Linked DNA regions of Homo sapiens: regions 2, 3, 4 and 5 are each linked to region 1. Evidence: fine-mapped expression QTL. A gene starts in region 1. Each other region holds a variant in brackets. All regions are shown on one strand. Distances are between the middles of the regions. Region 1 holds the start of NAP1L4 (nucleosome assembly protein 1 like 4). Region 2 overlaps NAP1L4 (nucleosome assembly protein 1 like 4). Region 3 overlaps NAP1L4 (nucleosome assembly protein 1 like 4). Region 4 overlaps SLC67A1 (solute carrier family 67 member 1). Region 5 has its middle 8.5 kb from the start of PHLDA2.

Region 1 (4,115 bases):
AGCAGGGGGATCCCATTACTGCAAATGGTCTTGAGACTTTATTAGATGGGAGGAAGGACCCTCCAAACTTCAAATGCCCAGGTTCTTGTGTCATTTCTATCATTGTTTATGCTTCCGCAAAGCATAAAGCATGACCTTTGTAGAAAAGTCTGAAAGTCTAAATAAGTAAAATAGGAATTGAGAGCACACACACCCTCTCCTAAAACACAGATGGCCAGACAGGACTGAGCACGCTGTGTGGGTCAGGCCTCAGCCATGCACCGGTCACCTCTGAGGGGTTTTTATGTTTTTTGTTTTAATTAGTTTTTTTTTTATTTTTTATTTTTTGAGATGGAGTCTCGCTCTGTCGCCCAGGCTGGAGTGCAGTGGTGCGATCTCGGCTCACACTGTAAGCTCCGCCTCCCGGGTTCACGCCATTCTCCTGCCTCAGCCTCCCGAGTAGCTGGGACTAGGGCGTCCGCCACAATGCACGGCTAATTTTTTTGTATTTTTAGTAGAGACGGGGTTTCACCGTGTTAGCCAGGATGGTCTCGATCTCCTGACATCGTGATCGGCCCACCTCGGCCTCCCAAAGTGCTGGGATTACAGGCTTGAGCCACCGCGCCCGGCCTTTTTTTTGTCTTTTTGAGACAATGTCCCCCTCTGGTTACCCAGGCTGGAGTGCAGTGGCCCAATCTCTGCTCACTGCAGCCTTGACCTCACGGGCTCAGGTAATTCTCCCACCTCAGCCTCCCAAGTAGCTGGTATTACAGGCCTGAGCCACCACGCCTGGGTAATTTTTTGTTGTTGTTGTTTTTGGAGCAGGGGAAGGGTGCTCTATGTTGCCCAGGCTGGACTTGTTGCCTCTGCCTCCCAGAGTGCTGGGTTTACAGGCCTGAGCCACGGCGCTCCGCATTAATTTCTTTTTAGAGATGAGGTTTCACTATGTTGCCCAGGCTGGACTTGAATTTCTGGGCTCAAGGAATCCTCCTGCCTCAGCCTCCCAGCTTACCTCTGAGGTTTATAACCGACGCTATGTTCTTAATCCCTCAACCAGGAGCCTTTAAATGGTTTCAAATTTTCCCCATTACAGGAATAACTTGCTAATAATAATAATAATTAGCAATTGTTTCAAAAGTAACGTCATCCCAAAAGAGAACGTTTCTGAAAAAAATGCACATTAGACTTGAAGACCCCCAATGGCACGGTTGAACATGGAAATGAACCAGCCTCAAAAGTCCCAGCGTAGGGGTTATTTTCCAATCAAATTGGATGCCTTTCTACAAAATGTGATGTGCACAGGCTGGGGCTGGTACCTTCACCCCAGCCCAGAGGGCACCATGAGAGGGAGAACAGGGCGGGCGAAACAGGCCAGCTCCTCCCCAGCCCTCTGCCCTGCTCTGCTTCAGGGGGCTGATCTGAGGGCCCAGTGCGCACTGCTTTTCCTCCTTGTCCGACAGGGTCTCCCGCAGGCCAGAACTAGGCTGCTGGGACACTGCGGGGCTCAGGGCGTGGGGGAAGAGATGCAGGCAGTGGCTAGTCCCGTCCTGTCCGCGGAGGTGACCCAGCCCCGACCTCTTCGCAGAGGAAGTGTTCTCCAACCTGGGACCTGGGGGATGAGCGGGGGTTAGGCTTACGTCCCAACCACTAACGGGGCTGGTTGAAAACGGCTCCCAGGCGGAGGGGCCCTCCGCGATGTTCTCAAGGAGTAGCGCGAGGGGACGACATGGGAGGTGGGGTTCTCACATCAGCGGGCGCACGGAGTGCTGGAGGCACCGACCCGCCGCGGACGGGATTGAACTAGGGAACTGGGAGGGCGCAGGAGATAAAGACGGCTGGGGCCGGGGCCCACGGAGAGGGGTGGTGCCCAGTGTCCCGCGAGGATGTGGTGCCACCCGGGGAAGGTCCCGGGAGCGGGGACCCGGGACCCCCCGGAACCACACACGCGGTCTCCACCTTGCCCCGCCCCATTTAAAGAGGCGGAGGAACGCAGGGCGCGCGCCGCGCGGAGGAATATTTGCATATGGCGCGGCGTTTCTTCGGAGGCTTGTGATTGGTTGCTGACTGCGGCGCGAAGCGCAGTTGACTTGCGCCGCGCTCGGCGAATCGCAGCCTGTCTTGCTCGCGGAGAGAGGAGCTAGGAGCCTCGGCCAATGGGAGCCGGCGTTGTTGGAGGCCACGGCGGCGCAGCCCCAAAGCGAGCGAAGCTAGGGTCGCCGCCACTGCCGCAGGAGGCGTGAGGTGCGGAGACACGGGTGCTGGGCCGGTAACGGCGCGCTGGGGAGGGCGGCCGGGCCCGGACGGGCGGGTGGGGCCGCGGGTCCGGCGCGGGCGCGGCGGCGGCCATCTCTGGAAGCCTCGGGGCGGTGGGGCAGGGGCGGGGCCGCGTTCTGGTCGGGGCAGGCAGCGGCGGCCGCGGCGGGGCCTGGGGCTTGGGGCCTGGAGCCCGGGCCTGGGGCGCTGGCGGGAGGCCCCTCCCAACTCCCGGCGCGCCTCGCCCGGCTGCCCGCCTCACTGAAGGTCAAGGCGCTTTGTTCTGCGCCGCGGGCGGCCTCCTGGGCGGCGGCCCCTTGGAGGAGGCGAAGACGGCGAGAGGCGGCGGCCGCTCAAATCTCCCGCTAGCCCAGCCCGCCCCGCGTGCGGGGGCTGTGGCGGTTACACGGCCGGGCGCGCCGGAGCGTTCAGGCTTCCCGTTTTTAAGGTGGAGACGTCCAGGACTTCTTTATTAGATGTTTAGGAATTTGAGTTTTTCCGTAGGGCGGTTGTCATCGTGAGCCTCTGTGGGGTCAGGCTGGGCTAACTGGGGTTTTGATGTCAGTTTGGTGTGGCCGAGGGCATGTCTGACGGGGAAGAAAGTCCTTGGCGTTGCTTCTTAGCTGTTGGGAGCTGTGCGGTGGGAGCGAGCTGGGCGGCGTGCGCTCCCCGAGGACTGGCCTGAGTGGCCTTAGACTAGTTACTCACGGGACTTGGTTTCCCAGCCAAGGTGGGCAGCAAGTCTGTTTACTATTTAAAACCGTCTTTCACAAGGGAAAAGCAAAATCTCCAAAAAAAAAAATTGTACATGTTATGGATGGGAAAGTGCCATGCTTTTCTTTCAGTTCAGAGATGGTGGAAGAGGTCACATTTGTATTTTTTGACCTGACCAGAGTCTTTGTTGTTTTCAATTTTCCCCTTCTGAATGCTTTCCGTTCACCCCAGCGAAGGATGGCCTGGTCATGATAAGACTTTCCACCGTCCACAGTTCTCTAAGTCTGATTGCGGGGCAGGAGGCAGACATGTTTAGGGTCCAGTAAAGGGGACTCCAGCCTTGGGACCTTTAGACCCTAACGTGTGTGTCACATCACCTGCCTGGGTGACTGTGCGCTCCTCTGGCAGGAAGGTCCGCCATTTCATTATGTTCTCGGAGGAATCGTCGGGGCACATTCGTCTGTGCTTTGGTTCGCATCCCCCAGTCTGCATTACTTTTTCCTGTAGTAACCCGTGCCTTATCCTCCTGCATTAGGTTTACGGGGTGAAAATAGACTTTTAAAAATTCTCTTACCTTAGAAATATACAAATATGTAGATTAGGTTGTTGGACCTTAAAGGTAAGTCTTTCTAAGTTACTACCTTCCTGTAATAGTAACTATACCTCTAAATGACTAATACCTGCACTGCGCACCAGGGACTCTTTCAGCCTGTTTGCGTGTGTTAACTCATTTCATAATCTAATAACCTGAGATAGATGCTATTGTTTTTCCATTTAACTACTCTGGAAGCTGAGGCCCTGGGAGGTTAGGTATAATGACTTGTCCGAGGTGACAAAGCTTAAAGACCCAGGCAGTTTTAACTGTACCCAGGGTTACTGCTTCTGTAGAGGGAATGAAAGAAGTTTTAATGAGAAATTGTTTTCATCATTGTGCTAAGCTTAACTGAACTCTAGCTTACGAGGTTTTGAGCTGGTTGATCATTTCCATCTCAAAATTCTCTTATTCCACAGAATGCCAAATGCCTCCTATAGTAGAATTTTGAGATTCAGACTGGGATGAGCAATTGCTAATGGAATAAATAATATGCAAATGTAAAATGAAGTTCAGAGAAAGCAACGTGGTGATAGAATGGGAAAGTAATCCAAAGATAAAATGAGTGACTACAGAG
Region 2 (4,115 bases), 49 kb after region 1:
TGGGAGGGCCCTGTAGACCACATCAGGGTGGGGTGGGGGTCACTTGGCAAAAAGGGCCGAGGTCTGGTGATGTGGTTCCCAGGATCTGGAACCTCTCCCACCCCTCCTGCAGTTGGACTGAATTCTTCCCTTTCATCCGAAGAAACCCACTTGCTGTTTCCAGCCGCTGAATCTGCTGAGTGTGCAGCCTGCATCACCTGCTGTATGCCGATCATCTCAGAAAGGGCTGTGTAGAGTAGGGCCCTGTTCTCCTTAGGATGTTGCTTCTTGATTTTTTTTTTTTTTTAGGGGTGGGTCAGGGTTGTGACACACCAGCCCAGGTGAGAGCTGCTGCGGGTCACCTCATATTTATTTATCCCTTCTTGCCTGTGAGGACTGCGGCTTTTCGCTGTGGCTCGTCCTTAACGTTTCTGAACCACCTTGGTGCCCTGAGCAGGAAGATGTGCCACTTCCTAGCAGGCGCAAGGCCTGTGCGGAAGAAACGCCGCTCCCTGCCACCAGGGCTGAAGATGCGAGCCCGTCCTCATGACGCAGGCGCCACCCTGCTGCCGGAGCCGGGCTTCGGCAGTCTTCTCCACTGAGGGACTGGGCTGGGAAGTCCTGCGTTTCAGTGGAGCGTATGAGCGTCAAGTCCTGCTTTCTCAGTAGCCCCATTGCGGGGCCCCACCATTCATCCTGTCTGAAGGTCCTGGGTTTGGTGTGACCGCTTGGCGGCTGGTGGGTGGGGTTTTCAAGTGGGTGACGGCGCTCTCCGGCAGCCGGGGATGGCCGTGTCCGCACTGACCAGGCCTGTGGAGAGTGCTCGGCCTAACCTTAGAACACATTTGTAACTGAATACAGTGTTTTCAATTTGTACAGAATAGTTAGAATATTCTATTAAAGTGGTGAAACATTGAGTCAGCACTGTGCCATGTGGGTCTTTGCAGGGGAATGTGGTGGGGAAGGCTCAGATGTGCTGCACACCTGTTGGGCTCTGTTGAGCCCTGGGTATTGGTGGCTCCAAGACCGGTTGTACAGTTTACTTCTGAGGCCTTGAAAGCTCAGTTTGAGGCAGAGGCTGCTGTAGCCCCCCCACTACACCTAAGTTGCTGCTGTATGCAGGCAGCTTCACTGCGGGCCCAGGGGAAGACTGTTCCTGCCCCCAGGAGGGGATCATTTCTCAGAGTTAGTGGGACTGTGCTTTGTAGATCCAGAAGGCTCCAAGAGGAGAACTTCCTGATAAAGCCCATGTTAGGTGTGTTTGCTCTCTGAAGCTTTTCCCCGTGTCTCTTCCATCCACAATGAGAGGAGGCACTCAACACCTGCTGCACAGGCACTTCCTGACCTGACCGTGGGAATCCCAGCCTTGGCAGCGCCGCCTGGTGAATGAAACGCTGTCATGAGAAGGCAGCCGTGGAGCTGGCTCATTGCTCCCCACGTGGCTGGCCCCGCCCTGCTGCCTCCAGCTCACCCGTGGGCTGCCTTCTCTCTGGGAGCAGCAGGAAGGGCAGGTGCAGGCTGGGAAGTGAATGCTTGCAGCATACCCCCAAGGGCCGGGGAGCCTGATGTCTGTGCTTCCTGCACCCGTTCCTCCGTCCCCATCCTGTGAAGTACCTGGGGGAGCTTGGTCTCAGGCTCCCCAGCCTCAGGGTGGCCCCATGGGTGAGCAGCACCCTGGCCTTACTTGGTCTGCCCAGGGTCAGACCCCATAATCCAAGGGGCATATGCTGTTTTGCAGTGACCCGCCCTTCAGCTGCGGAGACAGCCCTGCACACTGCCCTGTCCACTGGGTGCCCAGAGTGCCTTTTTAGGAAGGGCTCCACAGGCTTGGGGAGTGCCCCTCACTACCTAGCTGGGTGGTTTTAGATCAGATTTGCACTTTTCGATCAGATTTGCACAAGCAGGGGAAAGGGCTTAACATTGTGGCTTCTGGGGGTGGGGGTATCTGGATTTTCCCTTTTGAGTAAGAAGTGTGTGAGAACCCTGCACCCACCTGCGTGCATCCTTCACTGAGCTGGGTTCCTGTGTCC[G/C]CCAGTGAGTCTGACCTTGGGAGTGCATGGTTCGTGGATGCTGCCCAGTTCCAAGGACATCTGGGTGCAGGACCTCAACGTGAAGCCTGGGGAGCTGTGGAGGCCCGAGGGTGCAGGCAACCTGGTCTCCCCCAGGACCTCAGCACCTCCGGCCTCTGTCACCCCTGCATGGCCGCCGTGTCCTGCCTGCACCCCAGGGTCTCAGAAAAGGGAAGGTCATTCTCCAGTGGCCAAGGAGCCCAGGAACCATCCCAGGCCCAGGCCATTGTCAGCTCAGGAACCTCAGCCATCAGTGGTCACCGAAAGTCGCTGAGTGGTTGAGAGGTTTGCCCAGAGCCACCATCTGGAAGGCAGCTGGGAAGTGGGGGCTTGTGGCGGCCGCCCAGCCTGGCCTGGGTGAAGGGTGGCTGCTTCCCTTCTGGTCCTGGAGGCCAGGGGGTCTGCCACAGAACCTCAGCTCTGCTAGCCCAGGCCCTCCTTTTTCCCGACTCAGCCCCTGGCTGGGGAGGCAGACATTCACCGTCCAGCCCCGCCCCACCCACCCCACCCCGCTTGGGGCTCCCCCAGCCCCTGCCCTTCCTGTGACTGTTCACCCTGTGCGGGAACTGAGACTCAAAACCAGTGGCGCTGGGGTCAGGGCAGGAGTTTGGGGAGCAGCCCGGGAGATGGGAGGTGGGGCCTGGGGCACCCCCACCCCCTGCACAGGTGGCTCAGACGCTTCTGTCAGCTGCCATCACACGGGTGCTCCTGGGCAAGGAGGGAAAGAACCCGCACGGCAAGCAGCCAGGCACAGAAGACCTGGAGGGCCCTGTTTCTGTCCGGTTCTAGAGCCTGCAAAGCTATAGTGCCGGTGACTGCCTGGGAGGGATCTGGGGTGGGGGGACTGACCAAGGAACGCTTTAGAGGGATGGAAGTGGTTACACAGGTGTATACGTCTGTCAGAATTCATTGAGTTACATCAAAAATGGGTATATTTGGTTGTATATAAGTTAGTCCTCAATGAAGCTCAGCGTTGTTTTTTTTTTTGAGACGGAGACTCGCTCCATTGCCCAGCCTGGAGTGCAGTGACACCATCTCGGCTCACTGCAATCTCCACCTCCCAGGTTCAAGCGATTCTCCTGCCCAGTCTCCCAAGTAGTTGGGATGACAGGCATGCACCACTGCACCTGGCTAATTTTTGTATTTTTAGTAGAGATGGGGTTTCACCATGTTGGCCAGGCTGGTCTCGAACTCCTGACCTCAGGTGAACTACCCACCTTGGCCTCCCAAAGTGCTGGGATTACACGTGTGAGCCACCGTGCCTGGCCTGAAGCTCAGTTTTCAGAAGTCCCCAAAACAGGGTGATTCCACTTAAAATTCTGTTTTTTCCCTTGAGTCAGGAGCTATGGCTCCCTAGAACCTGATGGCTGCTGCTTTCCCCAGCAGGGTCACCTGGGACCCTTGTCCACAGCTGCCTGGCGTGTGGGTCCGCGGGTGGTGTGTACCCCAGGTCAGCCTACCTGGCCAGTCTGCTCTCTAGGCTCATGACTCCCGTTTATGTGGAGCTGGGACCAAGCCGACATCCCACTCTGCTCCTGTCCTGCTGCCCAGCAAACCTCCCCAGGCCCAAGGGCCACCCATGGGGCCAGAGCCCCCTTCCCCAAGTCCCAGGTCCAGGGCTTCCTGCCACCCCACCCATCTTGTCCCACTCTCAAAATGCCCTAGGCTGCCCCCAGCCCCATCGCTGGGCAGGCTGAGTCAGCATGAGCTGCCAGGATCCAAGCTTGCCCCTGAGGTGGGAGGCAGGGGTGGGGTGGGTAGGGGGCAGCCAGCTGGCTCCACCAGCCAGCCAGGTGGGTAGGTGGAGCCCCTGGCCTCTGCCTGGCTCATCCAGGCACACCTTGATATTACTGACCTCTGACCTGCCCCTGCTGGGTCCTTGGCTTGCCTGGCTCTGAGTCAGGGCTCAGGGCTGGGCAACTGGTGAGCAACAGAGGAACAGCCAGGGGCAGCGGTGGGAGAAGTGACCGTCCCAGACTCAGCCAACTCCAGCTGCAGTGCCCTGAGGGAGCCCTGGGCCTGCAGAAGGGGTTGCTGTGTGCAGAAGCCTGTGGTTCCCTGCCAGCC
Region 3 (4,115 bases), 25 kb after region 1:
TTATCTATGGCATTTTTTAAGCACTACACTGGGCATTGAAAGATTGTTCATAGTGGGCGGAAGGGCACTTTCTCTGACCAGGACCTCAGATGAGCAGTCCTGATCTCACAGTGAATGGTTTATTCACAGTGGGGCTTCCATGCTGTCTTTTGCAGTTCTTGGTGGAAAGCTGGGCGCTTCAGCCTGATCCAAAACTTTCAAATCAGTTCCTTTTACCTCTTGTAAAGCTCTGTTGTCTTGCCTGTGGGAAAGCCTATGAATAGATTCCAGAGCCCATCTCTGTCTTCCTGTGGTGTGAGTGTGCAGGAAAGGGTGAGGGCAGGAGACCAGAGCAGAATGAATTTTGAAGGGATGAGCTGTGTGTTTGTTTGTGTGTGTGTGTGTACACACACATCTCAGTGAATTTTTGAACAAGTTGCTAATATTTTCTGATCATTTCTCTTGAAAAAGTGTCTATTTTTTTTAAAAAAAGAGGCCAGGCATGGTGGCTCATGTCTGTAGTCCCAGCACTTTGGGAGGTCAAGGTAGGCAGATCGTTTGAGACCAGCCTGGGCAGCATCGCGAAATCCCATCTCTACAAAAAATAGAAAAGTTAGCTGGGCGTTGTGGTGTGCGCCTGTGGTCCCAGGTACTTGGGAGGCTGAGGCAGGAGGATCACCTGAGCCGAGGAGGTTGAGGCTGTGGTGAGCTGTGATCACGGTGCTGCACTCCATCCTGGTGGGTGACGAGACCCTGTCTCCAAAAAAAAAAAAAAAAAAAAACAACACAACAACAAAACCCAACCACCATTTCTGATTTTGTCTTGCCTTGACATTTCACTTTCTGTAGTGAAATGGTGAACAAATTAAAAGGTAACAAATTTGGTTTTCCCTGAAATGAGTTATAATAGAAGTTTCTAGAACAGAGAAACAAATCTTGCCTTAAGTCTCACTGACTGACTTGCCGTCAGTTTTTATTGCTCCAGCGTCCCCAGAAACAGCACGTCTGCATTCAGACTTGCTCAGGACAGCTGCAGGCTCTGCTTGTGTGGGCAGAGTGCTTCTCCCATCACAGAGCATAGGCACTGTGCGTTGCAAACTGCTACATTGTAATTTGCACAGGATTTTACAGCTACGGTTTTTAATGGTTTTCACAAATGTATCACATTGCTGCCTCTGCTACCTCCCTTGTTTAATGCTTGTCCTGTGTCCTAAGCCAAAACTTGAGAAAAGATGGAAAGAATGATGTATTTCTTATTCTCCTTCCAGACCAGAAAGCATCTAAAATAGAACAGCCTTGGTTTTTCCTGATCTGAGCTTCCTTTTCATATGAAAAGGTGGAATTTAAGAAGACTAGACCATACTTTTAAAAGAATGCCATGCACCAGAATTTCATTGGAAAAATTAAGTAATGTCTACCAGAGCCGTAGTCTCACCCTGTGTATTACAATCACCTGAGCAGCTTTGAAAACTAAATAGCAAAAACTAAATGCCTCATCTGTCACCATGGCACTGAGAGTTTTGAGTTGGTTTTAGGAACTCTAATGTGCACCCTGAGAGTTGAAAATCTCCATGGCAGGGAGCAGGTGGAAAGACTAGCTCTTAGTTCGTTCTTCTCAGACTTCGGGGGGCATGGGGAGTGGCCATGGCAGTGCGGATTCTGGTTCTGTGGGGCTGTCTGGCTCATGGGCCCTGGGGTGATTCTTGCACTGCAGGGTTGGAGCATCTTCACGTGGGATTGGGGGTGCAGTGATAACAGGGTTTGGGAGCTAGAGTTAGGTGACTTGAGTGAGTTTTGGTGTCCCCTTCTGTGCGTGTGGCCACCTGGTTATGGCATTGGGGTCACTGGCCATGGATAGTGCTGCCTTGGGTTTTGAGAGCACAGTGAGGCATTTGGCCACATTTTAAATGGGGTGTCCCTTCTCATTCTCCCAGCACCTCTGTAGTAGTGTCAGTGCTTCAGCATTTCAGCCATGAAGTGTCTTTTGTTGCTTTTTGTTTTAACAGCTTTAAAAAGATATGCAGGGGTTGATAGAGTACTCATTTAATATGCAGAGAATGAGGAAATGTTATTTGTACTGTTTGTAACCTCATAGCAGGTAATGGTAGCATATTCTATTTTGATTTTTTTTTTTAACAATATTTTCTTTTTTTT[T/C]TTTTTTTAACGGAGTCTCGCTCTGTCGCCCAGGCTGGAGTGCAGTGGCGTGATCTTGGCTCACTGTAAGCTCCACCTCCTGGGTTCACGCCATTCTCCTGCCTCAGCCTCCCGAGTAGCTGGGACTACAGGCATCCGCCACCACGCCTGGCTAATTTTTTTATTTTTAGTAGAGACGGGGTTTCACTGTGTTAGCCAGGATGGTCTCGATCTGCTGACCTCATCATCCGCCTGCCTTGGCCTCCCAAAGTGCTGGGATTACAGGCGTGAGCCACCGTGCCCGGCCAACAGTTGTTTTTTAATGTCTGGTTTTGAAGTCTGCCATTTCTGAGAGAAGCCCTTTCATTTTTAAGGGACATGGTCTTGCTATGATGCCCAGCCTAGAGGTCAGTGGCTTTTCATAGGCACAGTCAGGACACTGCTGTCTCAGTCTCCTGGCCTCAAGGGGTCCTCTCGAGTAGCTGGGACTGTAGATATGCGCCACTATGCCCAGCTCATTTTGGTCAAATATTAAATTCCAAAGGCGGATTAACTCTGAGTCCCTTTGTTCTAAATTTGGGGATAGTTGAAATATATTTCTGCAAGGAGAGTGGAAAATTTGAGATGGTGGCTTTACGATCTGAGTGCGATGCCTCCAGTGTTGTGCCTTTGCTTCCTGAGTCTGAGCGTCTGCCAGTGTGGGGCATTACCTTAATATTTGCCCTGGACATTTAAAGTTTTGACCCACAGGGTACATGGCTGCTTGAGGAAATTAGAACATAATGGTTATTTTATGAAGTTTGGGAAAACATGAGTGGGCACTGCGTCTTTGAGTGGGATGAGTTTGAAGTCCCAGTGCCATCTCTGGAAAGCATGCTGGTGGAAGTGCTCATCTTGGTGATCTAGAGCCAGCGCATGCTTCTGTGGGTGGCACGCGCAGCATTGGAGACTGAACATCGCATGCAGGTGTGGCCCATTTCACAACTGCCTTTGGGTTACTTTTTGTCTAGATACTTGCAGGTATCTTTTTGTTGCTGTTTTTGTTTTGTTTTATGTCAGAAGAGTTGAAAATTAGGACTCAACGGAAAATCAGGCACAGAAAGGGGGGAAATACCTCACGTTCACACTCATGTGGGAGCTACAAAAACAGCTCACCGAAGCAGAGAATTGTTGATAAAGGCTAAGAGGGAGAGAGAGGGGAGGATAAATAGGGAGAGGTCTGTTATCAGATACAGAGTGACTGCTAGATTGGAGGAGTAAGTTCTGGTGTGTTGTAGCACTGTAGGGTGAATGTGGCTAACGATAATTTAGTGCGTGTTTTCAGAAAGCTAGAGGACGGGTTTTGAATGTTCAAAAATAAATGTTTGAGGTGATGGTCCTGATTTATTACACATTGTGTACGTGCATCAAAATGTCACTGTGTCCCATAAATAGTACAATTATTACATACAACTAAAAAAGAGAAAAAATGATTTAAGAAAAACTTAATGCAACTTCAAGACATTTTGAGATTCAGTGCCCAGACTTTGGGGGTAAAGAAGTGACTGCCATGTTACAAATGAAGTGCCTGCTGCCAGTGCGTGTTTCTGAGGATTCAGGTCTTCCCACTCCTCTTCTGACTTTCCTCACTGGGACTTTCTAAGCTGACAGGTATTGGCAAAATGAGTTTAAAGAAATATCACTTGTAAAATGATACAGACACAGATAAGAATTGTACGCTCTTCCATGATGCCCACTCTTCCATGGTGCCCGCAAGTTGGATCTCAGACACGCTCTGTGTAAGTGTTCTTAAAGAAGTAACCGTGTGTGGCCGGGCGCGGTGGCTCACGCCTGTAATCCCAGCACTTTGGGAGGCCGAGGTGGGTGGATCACAAGGTCAGGAGATCGAGACCATCCTGGCTAACACGGTGAAACCCCGTCTCTACTAAAAATACAAAAAATTAGCCGGGCATGGTTGGCGGGTGCCTGTAGTCCCAGCTGCTCGGGAGGCTGAATCCGGGAGG
Region 4 (4,115 bases), 76 kb after region 1:
TTGGAGTGCTGAGGGCCTATTCTCCATCCTGCTTCCTGGCTTCTCAGTTAGAGGAGTCCAGGCGGGGCTTCTGAGGGACAGGGCTGCTCGTGGGCTTGTCCGTGGCTCGCTATCCTATCTGTGGTCCGTGACGCCCTACGGTCTGCTGAGAGGGCCCAGGGCCAGCATGCTGCAGAAGGCAGTGGTGACACTCAGACCTGCTGTCCCTGCATCTCAGGCTGTCTGGAGAGGACGTGGGGCCACAGGGTATGAGGGTAAGAGCTGAGGAGCACACAGGGATGCATGGCTGCGAGCCAGGCCCTCTGCCCGTGGGGGCCCACCCTGGGATCTGCAGGTGTGCAGTGTAGAGGGGCTGGAAGGAGGTGGGAAAGACACTTTTCTGCCTTCCTCCCGCTCCTGCCTGCTCTACCACATCTGTGTGGACCTGTGGGGCACAGGCCAGAGGAAGGGCCGGGCCCTGGCCGCAGCTGGGACTCTGCCAGGCTCTGGCCGCTGTTGGGGCAGTAGTTGGGACTCACCTGTGGGGCAGTTGGAGGCCACCTTCACCAGGAAGATCCTCGGGACGTCTGGCAGCCGCAGCAGGGAGGCGATGGCCTTCAGGTCGAACACACTGGCCCGGGGGCCGCCTGGCACGGAGAGGCCATTCAGGCCTGCAAAGGCCATTGTCCCAATGCCCACCCCTCGCCCGGCTGCAGGCCTCGCCATTCGGAGGGCCCTGTTGCGCCCGCCAGGGTAAAGCTTCCTTCCTTGGCTTCAGCACCGCTCACTTGTGGGAATGGGAGCTGGTGATGCTCCCAGCTGCCAGGTTGGGCACCGCCCCTCAGCACACTTCTACGCATTCCTAGGGGCCCCCTGAATCCCCAGAGGCACTTAGGAAAAGCATTCTCTGCACGCAGGTAGACTGGCCTCAACCTGGGCATGCAGTGGCGGAGGCCTGCGGCAGTCCCTGAACAAGGGACCAATAGCTGCTTCCTATATGGTCCTGGCCTGGGGCCTGGGGCAGAGCATGACCAGGCCACCAGCCCAGAGGAAGACAATGGCAATACTGTACCACTCTCTGTGGCCACAAGTCACCGCCGTGGCCTGGCCCACCGGGCACCTCTGAGTGCGAAGCCACAGGCCCCCAGCCCGGCTCACCGAGTCCTTCCTCCTTATTGTCTCAGGGGCTCCTGCCTCTCTGGCTCTGCTGTGCTCGCCACAGGCCCATCTCCACCCGGCCCTCCCCCTGGACTTTCTAGGTTAATTCCATGACAGCCTCCTGCCCCAGGATGGTCCCAGGTGGGTCCCTCTGGCCCAGGCTGGGCTCTTAGTCCCTAGGCACCGAGGCATGGGCCCTGCCACGTGCCTGGCACAAAGGGGCTGCGTTCAGCAGGGGGCCAGCCTTGAGGGGACCCCCTCTGAGGAGCCTTGGCCTCTCCTCATGGGACCAGCCTGACCATCCTCTGCCCTCCACCAATGAGTGCCCCTCGGGCAGCACCCTCGCCTCTCCCTGGACACTCAGAGCTTCCGGAGCCTTGCTGGCCCACCCACCCCATTGGGGGGGTCCCTCCTGGTCCTCCCCAGGCCTCTCTGGGCCTCCCCTCCTAGCACCTTCCCTGTCTGGGCCTCCCCTCCTAACGCCTTCCCTGTCTGGGCCTTCCTGCCTCTCTGGGCCTCCCTGCCTGCCGGAGCCCCACTTCCACCTCTTCATGACCACACCTCACTTGGCTTCTATGATGTCAGCAGCTGGGAAGGGTTCAAGGAAGGCAGGAGGGTGTGAGTAGCCCCCAGATTTCCCCTCAGGCCCCCCGTACCCCTTGGCTGGAGCACGCAGGCCTAGCCAATGCCTTCCATTGCCCCAGCATCTGGGCAGGGTGTACCTGGCGGGGCTTACCTGGCAGTGGAGCCTGGGCGTCAGTTTTGGCCCCTTTGGTGCTGGCGGGGATGCAGGTGAAGCTGAGGACAGCTCCCAGGAGGGTGGCCAGGGCAGCCAGGATGGCCGGGCACTGAATCCTGCGGGCAACAGCCTCGGCTGCACAGGGTGCGGGTCCCAGGGCCCAGGCGCCCCAGCCACATCCCCCAACCTGCA[C/A]CTTTGGTTGCACTAAAATAGCTTAAATCTGACCTCCCACATCCCCACAGTCTGTGGCCTAAAGAGTGGGGACTGGGACCCTCAGAGCACATTTATTAGGTGATGGATGAAGGAATGGGTGGGGCGCTCACCATCCCTGACCCTCGCCACGCCATGCAGGCCCCGGCAGCCCCTGTGGGTAGCAGCTGTGGAAGCCAGGCTGGTGAGCGCCTGGGGCAGGTGGCGGATCCTCCCAGGAACAGCAGCTCCCACGCTGGCCAAGGTCAGGAGAGGCTCCAAAGGGCAAGCCTGGTGTGCATGTCCCTGGGAGGGGCTCTCCGAGACCTGGGCACCTGTGCTGTGTCATGGGGATGGCTATGCTGCCTCCCCAGCGTGGGCAAGGGTGGGCCTGGCATTCAGCAGGCCCTCAGAAACCGACCCCCCTCCTGTTGGCCCCTCCCCACTTTCTAGAGTGTGGGGCATGCTGGGCTTGGAGGGGGCTTTGGGCTGGGATCCCAGAGCCTTGCAAAGCCCCGGAGGTGCCCCTCAGGCTGCTTTGCCACCTTCCCACCTTCCTGGGCCACTACCAAGGCCTGGGACTCTGGCTGTACCGTCAGCTTCCCTGCCATGAGTCCCCACCTGGAAACTTGGCCTGTGATTCCCCTGGAAGGAATCGGCAGGTCTTGTCTCCTGGGGACGGAGGCACCTGAAGCTGGCTGTTCCAACTGTCACCATTGCCTCCTGGGGGCTCAGCCAGCCCCCTCCCCTCAGGGAGAGACAGGAGGAAGTTGGGGCTTCCTACTGAGCTCGTCTGTAAGGCCTCCAGGCCTGTGCCGGACCGCCACGGCCTTCCTCTCAGCAGCTGAGCAAACTCCTATACAGCCTGCAAGGGCCCTTCTTGGTGAGGCCCCAGCCCTCCTTCCCAGACAGCATGCCATCTGAGAAGGACTCGCTTTACCAGCTGGCTAGAATCTGGCCCCTGAGGGCAGGTGGTCCAGGGTTGGACCCTGCGCGGAGACCGCAGTGATCATTAGATGATCGGACAAATGTGTGAGCCATTCACACACGCAGCACAAGTTCTGCCCCAACCTCAACAGATCCTCCAAATCTGCCCTGGCCAGGGCCTCAGGGCACAGGCACCCAGTAGGGGTCAGGGTCCTGGAAGATGCCCTTGCACCCAAAAACAAGGCCAGCCACAGGCCACCATGTCCCCACCAAGGAGTTCAAAGAAAGGACTTTCCTCGCCCCTCTTCACCGCAGCCACATGCGCACACACACACACACACGGGCAAACTTGTACACACACTTACCTGCATCCGTTTGCCAGAGCAAGGAGGGGACTTGGAGCCACACTGACTAGGACAGTCAGTGGGGCCACCTCTGAGTCCAGAGAGTCTGGGCATTGGCCACCCCTCATTTCTGAGGTGGGACCCCTAAGCTCACATCAGTCTAGGGGGGTGCTGGCATATCCACCCCACCTGTGCTGCTGCCCCCGCCAATCCATCAGGGCAGCTCCGACTCCTGCAGCACCCACCGCCCAGGACGTCAGCTACTCAGGTTTTCTGGCTGCTGGGGTTCCGCACGAATGGGCCCTTCCTTTGGGAAAATGCCAGGGAAGGGGAACGGCTGGGCTCGGGCGCCACAGCTTGTCCCTCCAGCCAGCAGGCACAGATGTATGGCGCAGGAGGGACAACTGGCCCCTGTGGCCAGCCCCAGAGAGACGGGCCCTTTCTTTGGGACCCTGGCCTCAGAGGCCTGCGTGTCACAGCTCAGGGTCTGGCTGGGCAGGGGCAAAACCTGCCTTATTTGCCAGATGTCCCAGAAGTACACAGGAGCAGACGCACCACTTCGATGGCTATTTTAGGAGGCTGGTGACAAGCAAGGCATGGTGGCAGGAAGCCAGGCCCTCGAGCGGTGGTGGGTAAACCAAAGGCCTGTGCTGCTGTGGGCAACAGGAAAGCCTGGGGCTGGGGGACCCTGGAGGGCCCCAGGAGGTAGGGAGTCAGGTCCCACCACTGTGCCAGGGGCCGTGGGTGGCTGCTGGGGGAGACGCAGGCTGTCCTTCCCC
Region 5 (4,115 bases), 54 kb after region 1:
GGAAGCTCCTGCTCTCAGGGGCCTTTCCTATATCACACCCTAGCCACTAAGGTCATGTTCACCCATTTGCCATCAAAGGTAACATTCGTGGGTTTCAGGGAGTAGAACATGGATATGTCTTATTGGGGGCCACCATTCAGTCCATGAAAGGGGTCTTTCAAACAGACCAAAGCACATGAAGAGGGGAAAAGACAGCCACGCCAAAGGCCACAGACACCCAGAGAGATGGCTGCCCCCACCCCAGGGATAGAGAAATGTGTGTGAAGACCTCAGTTTTTGACCACCAGATTGTGGGGTTTTGTTGTTGTTGTTGTTGTTGTTTTGTTCGTTTGTTTGGTTGTTTGGTTTTTCCTGAGACAGGGTCTCACTCTATGGCCCAGGCTGGAGTGCAGTGACACTTTCTCAGCTCACTGCAACCTCTACCTCCCAGGGTGAAGCAATTCTTCTGCCCCAGCCTCCCGAGTAGCTGGGATTACAGGTGCATGCCACTGCACTAGGGTAATTTTTTCTATTCTTAGTAGAGACAGGGTTTCACCATGTGGGCCAGGCTGGTCTCAAACTCCTGAACCCAAGTGATCCACTCACCTTGACCTCCCAAAGTGTTGGATTACAGGCGTGAGCTATTGCCCAGATTGACTTTTTTTTTTAAGTACAGAGTGCCCACCATTGGCCTAGCCATGGGGAGATTGGCATTGCAGCCCTTGGGGGAAAGGGTGAATAGGAACAGCCCCACTGGCAGGCCATTTTGGCAGTTACCACACATCTGAGGGCCTTGCTAGCCCAGCAGTGCCATGTCTGGTGTGCAGGAAGGCAGTGCCATGTAAGATGACAGCAACAGGGACCCAGCCCAAGCCCAACCATCACAAGGGGTGGCTGAGACATGGAGGATTCCAGATAATGAGGGCTGGGGTGGGGGGTTCCTGGAAGATGGCCCAGACAGAGGAAGAGACACAAGCTCATACCCCCGCCTGCATGGATATTCATATGTAAATGCATTTTTAAAACTGGTAAAGGGTACATCACAAGTTACATTCTTAACCATTTTTTAAAGTGCACAGTTCAGTGCCACTAAGCATAGTTACACTAAGCATATTCACACAGCATATTCACACTAAGCGTATTCACAGCGTATTCACACTAAGCATATTCACACCGAGCATATTCACACCGAGCATATTCACACTAAGCGTATTCACACTAAGCATTTTCACACTGAGCATATTCACACAAAGCATATTCACACAAAGCATATTCACACCGAGCATATTACAAGCATATTCACACCAAGCATATTCACACCGAGCATATTCACACCAAGCATATTCACACTAAGCGTATTCACACTAAGCATTTTCACACTGAGCATATTTACACCGAGCATATTACAAGCATATTCACACCACACCGAGCATATTCACACCGAGCATATTCACACCGAGCATATTCACACTAAGCGTATTCACAGCGTATTCACACTAAGCATATTCACACCGAGCATATTCACACTAAGCGTATTCACACTAAGCATATTCACACTAAGCGTATTCACACTAAGCGTATTCACACTAAGCATTTTCACACTGAGCATATTCACAGCATATTCACACAAAGCATATTCACACCGAGCATATTACAAGCATATTCACACCAAGCATATTCACACCGAGCATATTCACACCAAGCATATTCACACTAAGCGTATTCACACTAAGCATTTTCACACTGAGCATATTCACACCGAGCATATTACAAGCATATTCACACCACACCGAGCATATTCACACCGAGCATATTCACACCGAGCGTATTCACACTAAGCGTATTCACACCGAGCATATTCACACCGAGCATATTCACACCGAGCGTATTCACACTAAGCGTATTCACACTAAGCATTTTCACACAAAGCATATTCACACAAAGCATATTCACACCGAGCATATTACAAGCATATTCACACCACACCGAGCATATTCACACCGAGCATATTCACACCGAGCGTATTCACACTGAGCGTATTCACACTAAGCATTTTCACACAAAGCATATTCACACAAAGCATATTCACACCGAGCATATTACAAGCGTATTCACACCAAGCGTATTCACACC[G/AAGCGTATTCACACTG]AGCATTTTCACACAGCATATTCACACCGAGCGTATTCACACCGAGCGTATTCACACCGAGCATATTCACACTGAGCATATTCACACTGAGCATATTCACACCGAGCATACTCAGCATATTCACACTGAGCGTATTCACACTGAGTATATTCACACTAAGCATATTCACACTGTCATGCAGCCGCCATCAGCATCTGCCTCCATGATTTCTCATCTCCCCAAATGGAAACTGTGTCCCTATTAAACTCCCCATTGTCCTCTCCAGCTCCTGGCACCTGCCCTCCTACCTTCTGTCTCTGAATCTGACGACTCTTGGGACCTGGTACATGTGGAATCATTCAGTACTTGTCTTTTTGTGTCTGGCTTATTTCACTCAGCATAGTGTCCTCAGAGTCCATCCGTGCTGTAGCTTGTGTTAGAATTCCCTTCCTTTTTTTTTTTTTTTTTTTTGAGATGGAGTTTCACTCTTGTTGCCCAGGCTGGTGTGCAATGGTGCAATCTTGGCTCACCGCAACCTCCGCCTCCTGGGTTCAAGCGATTCTCCTGCCTCAGCCTTCCAAGTAGCTGGGATTACAGGCAGGCATCACCACGCCTGGCCAATTTTTCAGGTGATCCACCTGCCTTGGCCTCCCAAAGTGCTGGGATTACAGGTGTGAGCCACGTGCCCGACCAGATTTCCCTTCCATTTTAAGGCAGTGACTATTCAGTGTGTGTGTGGACCACATCGTGTGTGCCCATTGTCAGTGGATACTTGGTGGCTTCTACCTTTTGGCATGCTGCTGGGAATATGGGTGTGCATGGATCTCTAGGAGAGACTCTAACTTTTAGTTCTTGTGAGCATGTGAATGAGAAGTGGAATTGTTGGATCACAGGGCAATCCTATATTTAATTATTAAAGGAGGTTGGGTGCTGTGGCTCACTCCTGTAATCCCACCACTTTGGGAGGCCAAGGCAAGTGGATCACCTGAGGGCAGGAGTTCAAGACCAGCCTGGACAACATGGTGAAACCCCATCTTTACTAAAAATACAAAAAAATTAGCCGGGCGTGGTGCCACATGCCTGTAGTCCCAGCTACTCAGGGGGCTGAGGCAGGAGAATCACTTGAACCCAGGAGGCGGAGGTTGCAGAGAGCCAAGAACGTGCCACTGCACTCTAGCCTGGATGACAGAGTGGGACTCCGTCTCAAAAACAAACAAACAAAAATCAATTGTTAAAGGAAATGTAAATGCTTTTTTAAAAAGGATGAGGCCAGGCACAGTGGCTCACACCTGTAATTCCAATACTTTGGGAGGATGAGGCAGGCGGATTGCCTGAGCCCAGGAGTTCAAGACCAGCTTGGGAAACACAGTGAGACCCCATCTCTACAAAAAATATACAAAGTAGCCAGGCATGGTGGCATGTGCCTTGTAGTCCCAGCTACTCAGAAGGCTGAGGTGGGAGGATCACAACCTCAGGAGGTCAAGGCTGCAGTGAGCCATTATTGCACCACTGCACTCCAGTCTGGGTGACAGAGCAAGACCCTGTCTCAAAAATTTATAATAATAATAAAACAAAAAGAGGCCAGGCTCAGTGGCTCATGTCTGTAATCTCAGCACTTTGGGAGGCTGACATGGGTGGATTGCTTGAGCTCAGGAGTTCAGGACCAGCATGGGCAACACGGTGAAACCCTGTCTCTACAAAAATACAAAAAATTAGCTGGGTATGGAGGTACACACCTGTGGTCCCAGCTACTCAGGAGGCTGAGGCGAGAGGATTGCTTGAGCCTGGGAGGCGGAGGTTGCAGTGAGCCAAGATCACGCCACTGCACTCAGTCTGGGCAACAGAGCAAGACCCCATCTCAAACAAACAAACAAAAAAGGATGAGAGTGGCCCTAGGTGGGGACATGAGAGATGAACACTCAATTTTGTTTTTATTATTTTTTTTTTTTTTTCATTTTTTCTTGCTCTGTTGCCCAGGCTGGAGTGCAATGGTGCAATCTCAGGTCACTGCAACCTCCACCTCC

What was found. PIP is the estimated chance that this variant, and not a neighbour inherited with it, causes the effect.
Region 2: its variant is the best candidate, but not a certain one, in a credible set for the expression of NAP1L4 in nucleus accumbens (GTEx, PIP 0.57).
Region 3: its variant is the best candidate, but not a certain one, in a credible set for the expression of NAP1L4 in whole blood (TOPMed, PIP 0.58).
Region 4: its variant is the best candidate, but not a certain one, in a credible set for the expression of NAP1L4 in skeletal muscle (GTEx, PIP 0.57).
Region 5: its variant is the best candidate, but not a certain one, in a credible set for the expression of NAP1L4 in activated naive CD4 T cells (Schmiedel 2018, PIP 0.84).

Annotation. Positions count from the first base shown.
Region 1 is chr11:2,990,359-2,994,473 of GRCh38, reverse strand. NAP1L4 (nucleosome assembly protein 1 like 4) reads left to right here and starts at 2,145. Exons shown (of 16, transcript NM_005969.4): 1 at 2,145-2,220. RefSeq lists enhancers at 1,881-2,175, 2,720-3,576.
Region 2 is chr11:2,941,218-2,945,332 of GRCh38, reverse strand. NAP1L4 (nucleosome assembly protein 1 like 4) reads left to right here. Exons shown (of 16, transcript NM_005969.4): 16 at 1-896. Among named protein-coding and RNA genes, the nearest start is that of PHLDA2, 14 kb to the right of the region's middle. The variant G/C (reference allele first, on the strand shown) is at 2,010.
Region 3 is chr11:2,965,635-2,969,749 of GRCh38, reverse strand. All of the region lies in intron 7 of NAP1L4 (nucleosome assembly protein 1 like 4), which reads left to right. Among named protein-coding and RNA genes, the nearest start is that of SNORA54, 3.8 kb to the right of the region's middle. RefSeq lists a silencer at 3,224-3,424. The variant T/C (reference allele first, on the strand shown) is at 2,134.
Region 4 is chr11:2,914,499-2,918,613 of GRCh38, reverse strand. SLC67A1 (solute carrier family 67 member 1) reads right to left here. Exons shown (of 11, transcript NM_002555.6): 6 at 1,874-1,992; 7 at 519-626. Among named protein-coding and RNA genes, the nearest start is that of PHLDA2, 13 kb to the left of the region's middle. RefSeq lists an enhancer at 3,686-4,115. The variant C/A (reference allele first, on the strand shown) is at 2,069.
Region 5 is chr11:2,935,912-2,940,026 of GRCh38, reverse strand. No RefSeq gene overlaps it. Among named protein-coding and RNA genes, the nearest start is that of PHLDA2, 8.5 kb to the right of the region's middle. The variant G/AAGCGTATTCACACTG (reference allele first, on the strand shown) is at 2,113.